Linked DNA regions of Homo sapiens: region 1 is reported to be linked to region 2. Evidence: microRNA targets listed by miRTarBase, many of them from high-throughput screens and not tested one by one. Region 2 holds a microRNA gene; the other region holds the end of a gene's coding sequence.
What was found. The annotated mature microRNA hsa-miR-586 reads UAUGCAUUGUAUUUUUAGGUCC and lies in region 2 at 1,927-1,948, opposite strand. An mRNA with a match to its seed (bases 2 to 7 or 8) in the 3' UTR can be bound and repressed. Matches are read on the target gene's strand: a 7mer-m8 pairs with bases 2 to 8, a 7mer-A1 pairs with bases 2 to 7 and ends in A, and an 8mer does both.

Region 1: the mRNA of DTX4 is a reported target of hsa-miR-586. Seed matches in the 3' UTR shown: 7mer-A1 at 1,186-1,192.

Annotation. Positions count from the first base shown.
Region 1 is chr11:59,204,307-59,207,720 of GRCh38, reverse strand. DTX4 (deltex E3 ubiquitin ligase 4) reads right to left here. Exons shown (of 9, transcript NM_015177.2): 9 at 1-3,045. The coding sequence ends at 2,812. Among named protein-coding and RNA genes, the nearest start is that of MPEG1, 6.9 kb to the left of the region's middle.
Region 2 is chr6:45,195,808-45,199,221 of GRCh38, forward strand. It overlaps MIR586 (microRNA 586), which reads right to left and starts at 1,963; the gene lies at 1,867-1,963. The region is part of intron 2 of SUPT3H (SPT3 homolog, SAGA and STAGA complex component); the gene reads right to left.

The DNA of each region.
Region 1 (3,414 bases), not on the chromosome of region 2:
TGCTGGTGCTAAGACCATGAAAGGGAAGGCATGGAATCCCCTACTTGGGCCAGGAGAGCAGAGCAGAGCTTCTAGTGGGAAAACACTCTGTGTCAAGGTAGTAGATGCACAGGGCTCAGCTGGCAGGGTTCTCACTGAAATCTAGACTGCACCTTTCCAGGTTGGCACAAGACAAAGGGCAGAGGAATGCTCCCCGCCTTGCCGGGCACAGTGTTAGAAAGGAAATTCAAGATCCCTACTGCCCAGAAAGCCACACAAGAACAGCACGAGGATGAGGTAGCCCCTACTGGGCATCTGCAGAGAGGACAAGAAAGGGGGCACAGACACAATCAAAAGCCCAGGGGAAAAGGCTTGAAGGTATGAAGTCGACCTCTCCAAGTGGTATTGCCACAGGCACAGCGGCTCCCTTTCCATCTTGAGTCTTCTTCCTTCTGCTCCTGGCCACCCCCTTCCCCACCTATACCTTCTTCTCCCTGATGTGGGGAAACTGATCTCTCCCCAGTGCCTAATTCCATTTTGAAAGTCTGTCTTCTTTTCTTCCCCACCTCCTACTGCCTCATTGTGTCTTTCTTCCCATGGACCCTCAGCCTATTTCTGCATCCTTGCGGCCAAGAAGCTCAGCAGATACTTGACCAGTGTGCGAAGGTAGAGACGGCATGAGGCTCTCCAAGTAATCTCTGTACATGGTAACCTGACAAAGGGCATGGGTGTGATATTAAACACCGCAGGGATGTCTCTTCCATTTAGTTCAGGTGTTTCCTTCCTAACTATGGCAGGAAATTGCCCTGTGGTGCAGTAACCTTGGGACCAGTCTCCTGGTCTGCTGGTGAGATACAATGGCTGCCTGCCGACAGGAGACACAGGGACAAGGATGGCAGAGCAATTCCTCCCATCAGAGCTCCCTCTGGTGGAGCTGATCAACATCCCTGTAACCATTTGGAAAGAGAGCAAAGGCTCAGCACCAGCACATCCACAGAACTGGGTGACAGGCAGGTGAATCGACTGACAGGCAGGTGAATCGACTATCCACCCCAATGTCAAAATGGCTGGAGGCCTAACAGCAAGCAGCTATGGGGCTGGCTTTATGAAAGATTGGCCTCCAGTTCCCATCTAAGTACCATTTTTGAAGGTTCTCTTGTTTCCATTTTTCTAGCATCAAAAACCTTCCAAATATTATGAAATATATATGCATATATATATATATATATATACGTCAAACCCCCAAAACATGAGGTATATAAATTCAAATTAGTATCCAGAGGAACTTCCCCCAAACACATAGTTCAAAGAACCCACTTTCAAAGGGGGAATTGGGTTTCCCTTCTTGATCCCCCCTGTTCTCCTCCCTGGCCCCCAATTCGTTCCTTACTGGGAGCCAAAGGCAATAAGAATGTTGGGGAGGAGATAGGGTCTTGGGACACAACAAGATGCAGATTGGACCAGACCATATTGTGATCCCAACTCCATTAGGAATGAGCTAAAGAGATTCTCTCCCTGCTGTAAGTCAATCTATAATAGATGAGGGAGATGAGGGACCCAGCAGCTCTGGGCTCTGATTAGCAAATTTGCATGGAAACAGATTGAAGCCTTCATAGAAACAAGACTGGATGGAGATGAGCTCTGATCCAATCTTGAAAAGAAATATAAAAGGATGAGTTCAGCCCTCACCTCATTGCATCTCCCCAGGCACAGTTCTGTCTTCATTGGGGTTTCAGTTCACTACGGGATAGGTTGGCAACAGGTGAGGAACGTCAAAGGACCACAGCCTGGCTGTTGGAGCCCCATCAGAACTGGGGTTTGGCATCTTGCAAAACAGAGTGCAGGGACATGACGGGCCTTCCCTTCAAGCTGGCCCAGCAATGCACACACGCCCACACACACACGCGCATGCACAGACACAGAGGGCACAGAGCCCAGCATGGGCTCCACTCACAGTGACTCGATGAAACTCATGGAATCTTTGAGCTGGTCTAGAATGAGTTGGGAAGAAGGCTGTGGGCTCCTCTCCCTGAGGACAGTTCAGATGCTCAGTGGGATGCAGGCTCTGGTTTGATCAGAGAGGGTCTAGAAACAGCATCATGGGATGCCACTCCAAAGAGGAACCCCAGAGTCCATCCATCCACATGAGAGAACCAGATGCCTCTTTGGACAGGTGAGAGCTGTGAGGAGGAGAGGAGGGCCCAGAGAAGCCAAGGACTGTGATGACAGCAGAATGTGCTCCCAGAGGCTTTTCCTTCTCCGACCCTCTTGGGAAGAAGTGCTTCCTTGCTCTACACCAAGGCATCAGTTTCTGATGTCACAGCAGTTTAGTGATTCACCCCTTTGCCCACCCCCCAACCTTGCACAGTGAGAGCTCCCTGCCTCCAGCAGAGGGAGAATAGCAGAAACTCCAGTCTCAAAGCAGAGTGGAAGTAGCAAGAAGCCGGCTGAGGCAAGAAACCCCGGCTTCCCAAAGCCAGGATATGGAGTGCCTAAGCACTGCCCATACCCTAGGTGTGCTGACCATGCCCCTACTTGGGAGGTGGGGTAGGGAGGGGATTCCTGCCTACCCAGCACCAAAAACTCCATGGGAACAGACCCAGGATGGCCCTCATCCCATCTCCCTTTGTGTTGGATGAGATTTATGAATGATGTCGCTATATTCAGTCTGGCTCCCACTGTGGTTGGGAGGGATGAGGGATGGACACAGGGCAGGAGGGGAGGATAGAAAGTTGGGAGGGCAGGACACCAACTTCTTCTACATTGACTCACTCTCCTCACTTCCTGTCCTGCAGTCTCCATGGCCCCTCCCACCTCAAAGCTTTTCTGGCCTCAGTCCTTCTCCTGGGCAGTGCTGTCCTCAGAGATGCCCTGGGCAGCCAGTTCAGCCAGCACATTATCCAGGTAATTGGCATCTGGGTAGCCATGGCCAGTGAGATTAGAGCCAAACTCTGTCTTGTGGTGGACCTCATTCCAGATGACGGTGTCTGACTCGCCTGTGGTGCTGGAGGTGCCAATGGCAAAAATGAGGCGGCGATCCCAGGCCACGAGCAGCAGCTTCAGAACCTAGAGGGATAAAAGTGGGACATGAAAGGCAGACATTAATTGGCAGTCAAAGACTATCCCTTGGACGGTAGAGAATCCTCCCAAGGGCCCCATCCCTTCCTGCATCATGATACCCTAAGCAGCCCAGGGGAAAGAAAGAGATTTGGACTTGGAGTTTGGGAGCTACAGGCTGAGTCCTGGCTCTGTCACTGAATAACTGTGTGACCTTGGAGAAGTTATAGCACCTCTCTGAACATTAATTTTTTTATGAAATGGCAATGGTACAATCTGCCTCTAAACGTTGTGAACATCTTACTGGACACTCCATGAAAAGTATTTTCACACCAGTGCCTACAACGCACTAATTGATAAATGTTATCTGCCAACATA
Region 2 (3,414 bases):
ACATAAGGTGAAAAACAATTGGATTCATGAGTCTTTAGTTTGAATCTCACTGAGGTCGGTAGTTACAAACTTTCTGATCCCGGGCAAGTTACTTACATCAGTTTTCTTATTTGTAAGATGGGAATAATGATCATTCTTACCCAAGGAAGGAGAAGATTCAACGCCTATGAAGTGTATATGCCAGTAGCTGGCATATAGTAACAAATATTTACAGGTTAGAAAAGTGAGCTGACACTAGCACGCTAAAAATATATTTCACATCTATCAAAATATACTTTTAGTTTAATTTATCCAATCTACCATAGATAATACACAATAGATATCTGACTTTATATCTGTGACAATATTCAATCATTTTAAAAGGGGGTAGGGGGCAGATATATTGCTTTAGAAGTACTCCTACCATTCTAAAAATACTGTCCCGCAGCTGTTTAAAATTTATTTTTTTAGACCATAGCACCACTGTTTGGTTGTTTCCAATTTCTAAAACCACAAATAGTAAAAGTGTACTCAGTCTACTGCAAACATAAATAGCAAATGCACGCTTCAGCACTTTTTAAAGGATATGGAAATTGGCAACAAAAATGCAGTTCATGTTGAAAATTTACGACAGCCCTGCCATATTTCTTCAGAAATACAATCAGGTAAAAATTAGGAAGATCTCTACCAGCTGGGTGGTATTTTTGTGTTTTTATACTTATATTTTCACTAACTGAAAGACTTTCATTATGCAATTTCTGGCACTTGATAAAATAGAGCAATAGTACCTTTGCTAAAACCACAGTTTCTTTGGTTATGTTTAGCATTACACAAACATCTTTCACCTTAGATATCCTTTTGCATTAGAGTGTTTAATTTTAAATTGACTGAAGGGAATAACTTTTTTCAGAATATTATGCTTTCTGGATATCACTAAGCACAAGAATTGTATTTTCATGATTTCTCAAAGATCATGTGTATGTGTTTCAATTATTAGGCATTTGGTTCCATAAAAAGTGTGACAACTACTGATAAAAGATGAGAATACAAAAATGATTCAAGAAAACATGGAGAAGATTGACTTACAGTGTTGCTATATTATTTTTTTAAAACCCTGTCTTTATAAAATACGTAAAAAGCCACAACATGGATTTACCATCTCTTCCTTGGTAAAGATACATCTAAAATAACACATCCTCAGCTTCTGAGGAGAAGAAAAAAAAATCCCTGGTACAAAAGGTTAACATAAAAAATAGTATGCTAAATTCAACAGTGGAGGAAGAAGTTTCGTTTTAAGACATAATTCTTCAATACTCATTTCTCATTTTAATATTAAAATTGCTACTACATATTTAAATTGGTTTTAAGTATCAGAAATAGGAATAAAGATTATTTTTTAATATTTTGATGCATCCAATAAAATTGTGTTCAATTAACACTGAATGAACAAATAATCAAGTAAATGGAGAGAAAATGTCACTTGATCATTTCAGATTTTTTCATGAAATTTTTAAAATAAATGACTCAAAAACTCATGAACAATAGTTCATACTATGATCTAATAACTTAAATGATTTGAAAGAAAAATAAATCTACCAAGGAATTTTTAAGTGGCTCCTGTTTTACATGGTGTTTCTTCTTTACATACATTGTTACTAAGTGCATTTAACCAATAAACATTTTTCAAAGATCAGTTAAATTATGCTATTTGGTTGGATGAATACTTCATATATCCTCTATAATACATGCTTTTTAAAACTAATTAAAAAATAAGAATTCAAATTGAAATATGCAATGTAACAAAATTAAGGTAAACTATGAGAAAGACAAAAGTTTTGTGGTATTTGCAGAAAAAAATTGACAATACTATTTTTTCATTTACATAAAATAAGAAGATAAAGAGTGAAAAACCATTATGCATTGTATTTTTAGGGCCCACATGTATTGGGACCTAAAAATACAATGCATAATGGTTTTACCCCATGTCTTTTAATAAGAATTTGACTTTGTTAGATAATTGCTTTTCTTTGAATTTACAAAGTGTAAAGTGAGTCTAACTGCCATATTAATCACCAAAAAAACCCAAATTACATACAACGTAAGAAACTTAAAGCTGTATTTCTCATCTGCAATTAGCATCTATTCAGACTGTAAACTTACAAAAGCATTCAGATTTCTTCTTACTCTGAATACTGTTTAATAACCCAAACTTGATAATGTTCCATCACTGCATTTCTAGAAATAAAAAAATCTCTCAAAGTTCTCAACTTATCTTTTGGTCTGCTGAACAAGATATTATCTGAAATGTTATATGCTTTGAATACCCATTTTTACTTTAAAATGATACTTAATCATATCTTCTTAAGAGCTGGTCTAATCAATATGAAAGCCAGGCAGGAACAAAAAAATATTTTAAAAATAGCTTTTCAAAATAGGAATACATATTCTAGTGATGCAGTTTTCTGATTTGAAACAGGATCACTTTTACAAATACTGAGTGTCATTTTGTATTCAACAGCAGCAGAAAAAAAAGGTATAAATGTCTACCTCATTTGCTATAATGTAAGTTCTTAGATGGAAATACTGAATTAAACACTGGTGGCTTATGGAACACACAAGCCTTGCAATTTAAAACTAGAAACCTTCCTCCTAATACTTTGTTATATCTTTAGGTTAAAATATTTGTTTTCTTAATTAACCATAAGAAAACAAAGAAAAAGAAAAGAATCAGTCCCAATACATTAATTTGCTGAAATTTTCACTTGTGAAAACAAATCAAGTTTCAGAACTTGGGAATAGCATATAACAATGAATCAATGTCTCATCTGTAACAACGACACAGTTAAAATAACTTCTTGATATAAGTTAATTTTTAAGAAAATTAGTTTGATCCAGGGTTATTTATAACAGGTAACATGAGTGGTTTTTGACTAAGCTGCTATATCTTTCCTTGAGTTACTCTGAGTTAAGTCACACTACCTGAAGTTACATTTGGAACACCAACATCTTAATTATTATCATGAAATAGCTACCTATTATTTTTAAGTAAATGTACTAACTTCTAATCATATCTGTTATTTTAAGCTTTGAATAATATGAAACTAAATCATGTAATTAAGGATATAGAAAAATGCAACAGAATAGCTTTATAACAGACCAATTACAACACTTTATTTCCCATACTGTTACTTAACAAATATCTGTGCTATTTTATAACATTTTAAAATCTTAAGACTAGAAATAATTACATCTTTTACTAGTGCTTATAAGGGCTGTTGTCATCTTTAAAGACACAACATCTTTAAAATTAGAAATGCATACAATTTTATATTTCAAAATGTATTAACTCAAAGACAATAAAATACACCTATTTCTTAAGATCTATTTTAAAATACTGTTGTTGCATTGGATTAAATGTATATATGTGATTAATGA